3 linked regions of the Homo sapiens genome follow. The protein of the gene in region 1 purifies or fractionates together with the protein of each later gene. This does not show direct contact. Each region holds a gene or a part of one and is shown in the gene's direction. Other genes may lie near its edges. The genes, in order: RUFY4, TRAPPC10 and TRAPPC6B.

Region 1 (2,570 bases):
TGGGTCAAGGTTATTTTGGGCAAAGAGGAGGCCAGGTGTCAGTTGCATTCTGATCTCTTGCATGTGTCTCTCACTGTCTCTTCATTTCTCTCCGTCTTTCTCTGGCCCCTATGTCTCTTTCTCTATCTCTCCATCTGTCTCCATATCTGTGTCTTCTCCTCTGTCTCCATTTTCTCTGTCTCTGTGTCTCTTTCTCTGTGTGTGTCTCTCTCCCTCTATATATCTCTCAACTTCTCTATGTCACTCTCTGTCTCTCTCCAATCCTCTCTCTCTCTCTCTCCCTCTTTCCCCTTCTCTCCACCCCTCTCTCTCTCTCTGAGTAACCATCTTTCTCTGTCCATCTTTGTATCCCTCCCCATTGCTGTGTCTCTATCTGCGTCTCTGCTCTTGTTTCTGTCCCTGTCTCTGAATCTCTTTTTATTTCCGTATGTGTCCATGTGATTCCCTCCATCACCCTCTCTGTCTCTCTCTTCCTCTCTGTGTGATTCCGTCTGTTCCTCTCTGTCTCTCTGTCTGGGTCTTTTCCCATTTCTATCTTTTGATCTCTGTCTCTGTCTGTGTCTCTCCACCTTCATCCCCCCATCAGAGAGAAGGACCGCCTGTGGCAGAGGCTCCAGCATCTCTCTTCCATGGCTCCCGAGTGCTGTGTGGCCTGTAGCAAGATCTTTGGCCGATTTTCTCGGCGGTATCCATGCAGGTAAAGGGAAGGGCACAGAATCCTCCCTCTGGGACAGCCCAGTTTCCACCAGCTGACAGCCCCCACCCACCCCAGGGAAGGGAGGGACACAGGAACTGGGTGTTTATAAAAGGCCACTTACAGCTGACTACTCATTCTACCACATCTGGCTTCCAACACTAAGCAGAGCCATAAAGGAGAAGAGCAGAAGGATCAGATAAGGAATGGGGTCCGGGGAGTGGGATTGGGTCCCCCTCCAAGAGCCGATTGAGAAATGGGCCTCTCATCTGGAAGGGAGCATCTGTACAGCGTAAGCTGCTCCCCCTCCTTCCTCTGTGAGCACAGTGCTAGGACCAGCCTTGGGAGAGAGGAAAGTGAGCCACCAGGAGAAGCTGCCATGTGGAGGTGGAGGCTCTGGAGGGGTCGGGCATCAGGACACCCTTCAGGAGAGGGGAGACCTCCTGAGACAAACCAAGGGCATTCCACTGGGAGATGAGAAACAGATGTCTCAGGTGGACCTGAAGATGCTGGAACTCCATGACCTCAGCGCCCACTTGGGGAAGTGCCAGCTGCAGAGGCCGCCCCAGGCTTTCCTGCCTCTGCCTTCCAGGCTCTGTGGAGGCCTGCTCTGCCATGCTTGCTCCATGGATTACAAGAAGAGAGACCGCTGCTGCCCACCCTGCGCCCAGGGAAGAGAAGCCCAGGTCACCTGACCAAGACCAAGACCAGCCCATGACTGGCCTCCCACCTGCCTGCCCATCCCACTCAATCCACTCCCTGCCCGTAGCTCTTCCCAGCCCTCTTGTTTGTCCAGTCCTCATTCTAGACACTGAAGATCTAAGGCACCAGCACTTCTGTGGGCAGAGTAGGGTGTGGGGAGTGGTTCCAGCCCTGCAACTACCACAACGAGCCAGGTGACTTTGGCGAAGCTCTCAGTGCTCAGGGCTTCTTCTCTAATGTTAAGAGTTGGGCCCCATCCTCTCTAAAGTCCCTCTGGGCTCAGCAAATCCATGACTGTGGATAAGACCCCAGCAGCCCTGACATTTCTCCTCCACACTCCCCACTCACCCAGCAGCGGTGCCCACCTTTCCTGATTCACGAGAAGTGAAGCCTGCACTATCTTGGACTCTCCAGCAGCTTCCTGTCTGGAGTCAGCTTCAGGGATCTGTGTTTGTGTTGCTGTGTTTCTTTTTATGTTTATTGAAGTACTACTGACATATGATAAACATCACAGAGTGTACAATTTGATGAGTTTTGATTTTAACAAACACCAATGAAACCGTCTTCATAAACATATCTATCCACCCCAAAGTTTCCTTGTGCCCCTTTGTGGTCTCCCTCCCTTCCCTTCCCTCCATACCTAGGCAAACACTGATCTGCTTTCAGTCACCACAGGCTAATGTGCATTTTCTAGAATTTTATGTAAGTGAAATCATACAGTATGCCCTCTTTATTGCCTGCCTTCTTCTGCTGAACTTAATGATGTTGAGATTCGTGTCTGTTGCTACATATATCAAGAACATATTTTATTGTCGAGTGGTATTCCACCGCATGGATATGCCACAGTTTGTCTCTACATTCACCTGTGGATGGACATCTGAGTTGTTTCCAACCTGGGGCTATTACAAATAAGATTCACATGAGTATCTGCTGACATACACTTGTTTCTCTTAGGTTTCTCTTGTGTAGACATATACTTGTTTCTCTTAGGTAAATTCCTAGGAATGACATGGGTGAGTCATTATGTTTAACTTTTTTTTTTGAGACGGAGTCTCGCTCTGTCACCCAGGCTGGAGTGCAGTGGTGTGATTTCATCTCACTGCAAGCTCCGCCTCCTGGGTTCTCGCCATTCTCCTGCCTCAGCCTCCCAAGTAGCTGGGACTACAGGCGGCCG
Region 2 (3,654 bases), on another chromosome or scaffold:
ACAGAAGGGACTGTTGACACACGCAGTGCTGTGGTTGGATCTCAAGGGCATTATACTAAGAGAAAAACGCCAGTCCTATAAGGAGGTGTACTGTGTGATTCCATTTCTAAATGACATCCTCAAAATGCCAGCCTCAGAAGGAGAGCGGGTCAGTGTTCCACGGAGCAGTGGGAGGCAGCAGGAGGCCGTCCTCTGTGGTAATGGAGAGTTCTGGGCCAGGGCCGCTGTGGTTGTTACACGAATCTACACATGTGACAAATGCCATAGAATTAGACCCAAAGAATGCCTGCGAAAGCTGCTGAAATCCAGTGGGGTCTGCAGCCTGGTTCACTCTGTAGTGAAATCCAGTGGGGTCTGCAGCCTGGTTCTATCTGTATTGAAATCCAGTGGGGTCTGCAGCCTGGTCCACTCTGTAGTGAAATCCAGTGTGGTCTGCAGCCTGGTTCTATCTGTATTGAAATCCAGTGGGGTCTGCAGCCTGGTCCACTCTGTAGTGAAATCCAGTGGGGTCTGCAGCCTGGTTCTAGCTGTATTGAAATCCAGTGGGGTCTGCAGCCTGGTCCACTCTGTAGTGAAATCCAGTGGGGTCTGCAGCCTGGTTCTATCTGTATTGAAATCCAGTGGGGTCTGCAGCCTGGTTCACTCTGTAGTGAAATCCAGTGGGGTCTGCAGCCTGGGTCACTGTATGGTACCAGTGTCAGCTTCCTGTGTTACACGAGATGGCACAGTTGGGTGAAGCTGGTGATGAAGGTATGTGACCCCTCTACTACTTTTACAACTTCTTGTGAGTCTATAAACATTTCACAATTAAAAAAAAGTCTACTCAGGAGCTGAATTTAATAAAATGAGCACTTTTGACTGCTTTGTGAAGCGTGGCATTTTTTTTTTTGTTTTTTTGCTGTGAGTTCATGGTAGTAAAGAACATGAGTGACATGACTGCGCAGTCTGGCCCGAGTTCATGCCATTGTGGTTGCCCCAGCAGCGCGAGGTCAGCAGCGTAGAAAGGCAGCAGTGTGAAAGCTATGAGCTTGCGGGTGCCCTGAGAGCCACACTCTGAGAACTGTCACTCCTTTGCCTTCCTCCTGACACTCCTAGGGCCTCTGCATGTCCTGTAGTAGCTCCTGTCCTCAAAGGTCCCCCATCCCCAACTACAGGATGTCCACCTCCCTGAGCCCTTCTCTGCTGCTCGTGGCCTTCTGGTCACTCACTCCCCCTGGGCGGTTGCTCGGTATCCTCATGATGGGAAGCTGTGACCTCTTTACCAGGTCTACTGCTACTGGATGGCAAGGATCCTGTCTTGCTTACTTTCATATCTCCAGGGCTAGTCCCAGTGAATGATCACTTAAGTGTTTGAATTGCATTGAATTACATGATGGTTGTGTTTTAATAATTAATGTTAATAATAACACCTGCCATATATTAAGACACTACCATGTCCCAGGAGTGGTACTAAGTGCTTTACATACAAGGGGTCTTCAAAAAAATCATGGAAGATACGTTATGAAAAAACTATGCATGGATTTCAACACTTTTTGCACCAAAATAAGCTCCTACTCACTGAGCAGGATCTAGTTTGAGGCACTAAGAAGGATAAGACATCAGTTTTAAAAGAGCCCCTATCAGAGCAACATGAATTCTGCTAAAATTAAATCAAGAACCAACATTGGCCGGGTGCAGTGGCTCACGCCTGTAATCCCAGCACTTTGGGGGGCTGAGGCAGGCGGATCACCTGAGGTCAGGAGTTCAAGATCAGCCTGGCTAATATGGCGAAACCCCATCTCTACTAAGAATACAAAAATTAGCTGGGCGTGGTGGCAGGCGCCTATAAGCCCAGCTACTTGGGAGGCTGAGGCAGGAGAATTGCCTGAACCCAGGAGGCGGAGGTTGCAGTGAGCCAAAATTGCGCCACTGCACTCCAGCCTGGGCAACGAGCAAAACTCCGCCTCAACAACAACAACAACAACAAAACAACCAACATCAAATTTATGGTGAAGCTTGGGTGGAAGAATGGTGAAATCATTGATGCTTTATGAAAAGTTTATGAAATTCTTTGGACAGTGCCCCAAAGAATTAGTAGTTTGCAAATGGATATCTTGTTTTAAGAAGGGACGAGATGATGCTGAAGATTAAGGCCATAGCAAGCAGACCATCCACATCCATTTTCAAGGAAAAAATTCACCTTGTTCATGCCCTAATTGGAGGGAACTGACAACAGCAGAAATGACAGCCAACACCGCAGACATCTGAACTGGTTCAGCTTATGCAATTACGCCTGAAGGGTGAGCAAGCGTTCCACTCAGTGGGTGCCAAAACCCTAGTACCCAGGTCCGTGGCCGACCAGAGCAGAGCTTCCCATGGAAACTTCAAACACACGGGATCAAGATCCTGAAGCATTTACTCAAAGAACCATAACAGGAGATGCAGTGTGGCCTTCCCAGTACCATCCTGAAGACAAAGCAGACACGGCAATGGCTACCAAGAGGTGGGGTGGCCCCACCAAAGCAGAAGCAGACTGGTCAAGAGCAGAGGCCACAGCAACAGGTTTTTGGGATACTCAAGGCATTTTGCTTGTTGACTTTCTGGAGAGTCAAAGGACAGCAGCGTCTGTGTATTATGAGATTGTTTTGAGGAAGATAGCAAGAGCTTTGGTAGAAAAACCCCTGGGGAAGCTTCACCAGAGAGTCCTCCTCCACCACGACAAAGCTCCTGCTCATTCCTCTAACAAGCCCAACTTCGTGAGGGTTTCTATGGGAAATCATGAGGCATCCACCTTGTGGACCTGATTCGGCTCCTTCTGACTGATTTTGGTTTCCTGATCTTAAGAAGTCTTTAAAAGGCACCCATTTTTATTCAGCTAATAATGTAGAGAAAGACTGCGTTGACATGGCTAAATTCTCAGGCCTCCCAGTTCTTCAGGGATGGACTAAATGGCATCGTAAGCAATGGCATCATTGCTTACAAACATGTCTTGACCTTGGTGGGGCTTATGTTGAGAAATAAAGCTTATATTTTCTGTTTTCATCTTTGGATTCCATTTTTGCATGAACTTTTTGTAGTTCCCTCATACGTATTCTCTTTCCATCCTTAAAAAGCAGCTCTGTGAGGCTGGTGGTGGTCTCAGCACTATACAGCGGTCATTGAGCCTGGAGGCCTTGGGGTGCTCTTCTGAGTGGCAGAGTTGGCTTCAGACCCAGTGGTCTTGGATACTGCCACTTACCAGACAGAACCCATTAACTGCCAAAGTCACCATACTGTGGAAGATGACACAAAAATTTGAAAACAAAATTAAATCATTTATTAACCTCACAGGAAAAATGCAGTTTTCTGTACACGTCCAGCATAATTCATTCTAATCCAGAACTAATTGAAATTGGACTCAATGAAATAGGGGTTGCCACCGTGAAAGTGCATGGCTTTATCTTCAGGCGCAGCTACAAGGCACTGGGCTCTGTGTCCGCAGTGTTTTGTCAGACAGCGTTGGGTGAGAGGATTGGGTAACGACGGCCGTGACTCTCGCCTGAGTACTGGAAGGCCCGTCCTGGATGACACATCGCTTCCTCTCGTTTCAGTTGTCGACAACAGTAGCAACTGGGCAGTGTGTGGGAAAAGCTGCGGTGTCATCTCCATGCCAGTGGCTGCTCGGGCCACTCACAG
Region 3 (3,654 bases), on another chromosome or scaffold:
GTATAGCAAAATAAACTTCCATAAGACTTGAGGTGAGATAAAAGAAAGAAACAGTGTTCTAACCCTCCAAATCAAGGTTTTTCAAACTATGCTTAAAGAGGAATTCTCTTAAAATGGACTAATTGGGCATTTCTCAATTTATGGTGAATGGATTTTGAAAGGCTAATGGATAAAATGTTCTCAAGTTGAATTTTTCTTAAAAATTTGGTGCCTACTCAAAAGTGCATGAACAAGTAGCAAAATTAAGTAGTAGGGCTTAATTCAAAAGCTCATGTGATCATAGGATTTGAAAGTGTCTGCATATAAGCATATTGTAACTGCCCAGTGGGTTCTTCTTCCCCACTGCCCAGGTAGAGCTGATCTATCAAGACAGGAGAATTGCAATAAGGAGTTTATGTAGAGCTGCTAAATGGGAGAGCAGAGTTTTATTATTGCTCAAATCAGCCTCCCCAAACATGCAGAGTCTAGGGTTTATCAAGGATAGTTTGGTAGGCTGGGGGCTGGGGAATGGGTGCTCCTGGTTGGTTGGGGATGCAGTTACAGAGGTGGGGGCCAGAGGACCAGTTGGAGTCATCCGAAATGCAAAAGTCTGAAAAGACATCTCAAAAGGCCTTTTTTAGGTTCTACAATAGTGATATTATTTACAGGAGTAATTGGGGAAGTTACAAATCTGTGACTTCCAGAATAATGTCTGATTATCATTTAACTACCTACATTTTAGCAGAATTCAGACCCCTCTCATAAGCCTAACCTTATAGTCTTTCATTAGTTTTGCAAAGGTGATTTAGTTTCGGGAAGGGCTATTATCATTCTTGCTTTAAGCTTACACTATAAACTAAATTTCTCCCAAAGTTAGCTTGGGCTGCATCCAGAAATGACCAAGGGCAGCTTGGAGGTTAAAGGCAAGATGGAGTTGATTAGGTGAGATCTCTTTTACAGTCATGATTTTCTTACTGTTACAATCTTTGCAAAGGTGGTTTCAATAGTTCCTGCTAATAAATATGTTCCTAGGTGATTCTACAGAGAGCAGATTATTCCAAAAAGAGCATCATGATTTACAGACACTTATTCTAGCTGAACTTGTTTTTTTGTTTTTTTTTTTTTTAAGAGACAAGTCTCTGGGTTAGTGTGGTGGCTCACACCTGTAAATCCCAGCACTTTGGAAGGCTGAGGTGGGAGAATTACTTGAGCCCAGGAGTTGGAGACCAACCTGGGCAACATAGTGAAACAGTGTCTCTATTTAAATAAAAAAAAAAAGAGGCTGGACACGGTGGCTCAGGCCTGTAATCCTAGCACTTTGGGAGGCCAAGGCAGGCAGGTCACAAGGACAGGAGTTCCAGGCCAGCCTGGCCAACATGGTGAAACTCCGTCTCTACTAAAAATACAAAAAATAGCTGGGTGTGGTGGTGCACGCATGTAGTCCCAGCTACTCGGGAGGCTGAGGCAGAAGAATCACTTGAACCCAGGAGGCGGAGGTTGCATTGAGCCGAGATTGTGTCACTGCACTCCAACCTGGGTGACAGAGCAAGACTCAGTCTCAAAAAAAAACAGAGAGAGAGAGAGAGAGACAATGTCTTGCTCTGTCATGCAGGCTGAAATGCAGTGTTGGGACTTTGGCTCACTGCAGCCTTGACCTCCTGGGCTTAAGTGATCCTCCCACATCAGCCTCTCGAATAGCTAGGGCTATGGGCATGCTACCATGTCCAGCTAATTAAAAAAATTTTTTTTTGTAGAAACAGAGTCTTGCTATGTTGCTCAGGCTGGTCTCAGACTCCTAGTCTCAAGTGACCCTCCTGCCTCAGCCTCCTACGGTGCTGGGATTATAGGCATGAGCACTGCGCCTGGCCTCATCCTAAGCATGTTTGAGAAGTGTGGAGAATAGCAGAAAAACTGAAGATAGTGATACGTACAGTAATAGATGTATGTACAGAATTTTACGACAGCATAGGGCCTAAGGAAGTTTCAGGGAAGCCATCTGGGAGAATGTAATACTTGAGCAGAATTTAAAGAATGTGAATGCCAGGCGCGGTGGCTCACGCTTGTAACCCAGCACTTTGGGAGGCCGAGGCGGGCGGATCACAAGGTCAGGAGATCGAGACCGTCCTGGCTAACATGGTGAAACCCCATCTCTACTAAAAATACAAAAAATTAGCCGGGCGTGGTGGCGGTCGCCTGTAGTCCCAGCTACTCAGGAGGCTGAGGCAGGAGAATGGCGTGAACCTGGGAGGCAGAGCTTGCAGTGAGCCGAGATCACGCCACTACACTCCAGCCTGGGCAACTGAGCGAGACTCCGTCTCAAAAAAAAAAAAAAAAGAATGTGAAGTCTAGGGAATAGCACATAAAAAGGCAGGGAGACAGAAGAGAACATGGCACTCTGGAGTTGCTGCAGAAATTTCAGAGTGGTAAAAGGGAAGGATGTTTGTGAATTTGGTTAACTAGCCAGGAGTCTTTAAGGAAAGGACATACCATGATGCCATGCTAAGGAGTTTGGACTTTATTTTTTGTTTGTTTGTTGGTTTGTTTTGAGACAGGATCTCACTCTGTTGCCCGGTCTAGAGTGCAGTGGCTAGATATTGGCTCACTGAAACCTCTGCCTCCTGCACTCAAGCCATCCTCCTACCTCAGCCTCCCAAGTAGCTGGGACTATAGGTGCATGCCACCATGTTCACCTAATTTTTGTAATTTTTTTAAAGATGAGGTTTCACTATGTTGCCCAGGCTGCCCTCGAACTCCTAAGCTCAAGCAATCCTTGGCCTCCCAATGTACTGGGATTTACAGGCATGAGTCACTACATCAGGCCTGGACTTTATTTTGAAGAAAGGGGAGCAGGTGCTGAAATTCCAGTAGAGAATAACATGATTTTTTTTTTAGACAGAGTTTCACTGTTATTGCCCAGGCTGGAATGCAATGGGGTGACCTTGGCTCACTGCAACCTCCGCCTCCTGGGTTCAAGCAATTCTCCTGCCTCAGCCTCCCGAGTAGCTGGGATTACAGGCATGCGCCACCATGCCCAGCTAATGTTTTATGTTTTTAGTAGAGATGGGGTTTTTCCGTGTCGGTAAAGCTGGTCTCGAACTCCTGACCTCAGGTAATCCGCCTGCCTCGGCCTCCCAAAATGCTAGGAGGCGTGAGCCATCATGCCCGGCCGAGAATAACATGATTTTTTTTAGAAATTTACTTTAGTAGAAGTTACACTACCAGAAATATAGAAGATGACACAAAGTAGGAAAAAATGAGACAAGACCAGTTGGAAAGCTATAGCTAAAAACCAGGAGAGAAATGATAAGGCTTTACTTAAGAAGTAAGGGTAGAGAGAGACGATGAATTTTGAAAAGCTTGTAAAAGATAGGCTCCACCGGACTACAGTGTATGGGGGGTTGGGAGCACAGGGGTGAAGAAAATGGAAGTTTTCTGGTTGGAGTAACTAGGTGAATGGTGGTGCCATTAATGAAGTTAGGAAATTTTGGAGGCAGAGCAGGCTGAAGACATTAATAAAATGAATATCATTTGAATATGCATACTTCGAAGGTCCTGTGGGACCACTAGATGTCTATGCCCAATAAAGTCTGTACTAGAAACGCAGATTTAATAGTCACAGCACCATAAGCAGAGTGCATGGTTCCTTAGAAGAAAGTTTAGCAAATAATAAGCCCT

What was found.
Region 2: the proteins of RUFY4 (region 1) and TRAPPC10 purify together in Homo sapiens (affinity purification with mass spectrometry; one large-scale study listed by BioGRID and IntAct). This does not show direct contact.
Region 3: the proteins of RUFY4 (region 1) and TRAPPC6B purify together in Homo sapiens (affinity purification with mass spectrometry; one large-scale study listed by BioGRID and IntAct). This does not show direct contact.

The regions. Positions count from the first base shown.
Region 1 is NC_000002.12:218,088,666-218,091,235, forward strand, and holds the end of RUFY4 (RUN and FYVE domain-containing protein 4), read left to right. Parts: intron 1-586; coding exon 587-697; coding exon of another isoform or gene 698-701; exon of another isoform or gene 702-820; coding exon of another isoform or gene 821-824; exon of another isoform or gene 825-863; coding exon of another isoform or gene 864-897; exon of another isoform or gene 898-1,021; coding exon of another isoform or gene 1,022-1,172; exon of another isoform or gene 1,173-1,286; coding exon 1,287-1,389; 3' UTR 1,390-1,919; downstream 1,920-2,570. UniProt on the Homo sapiens protein: ARL8 effector that promotes the coupling of endolysosomes to dynein-dynactin for retrograde transport along microtubules. Acts by binding both GTP-bound ARL8 and dynein-dynactin.
Region 2 is NC_000021.9:44,099,209-44,102,862, forward strand, and holds part of TRAPPC10 (trafficking protein particle complex subunit 10), read left to right. Parts: exon of another isoform or gene 1-858; intron 859-3,569; coding exon 3,570-3,654. UniProt on the Homo sapiens protein: Specific subunit of the TRAPP (transport protein particle) II complex, a highly conserved vesicle tethering complex that functions in late Golgi trafficking as a membrane tether.
Region 3 is NC_000014.9:39,163,707-39,167,360, reverse strand, and holds part of TRAPPC6B (trafficking protein particle complex subunit 6B), read left to right. Parts: intron 1-3,654. UniProt on the Homo sapiens protein: Component of a transport protein particle (TRAPP) complex that may function in specific stages of inter-organelle traffic.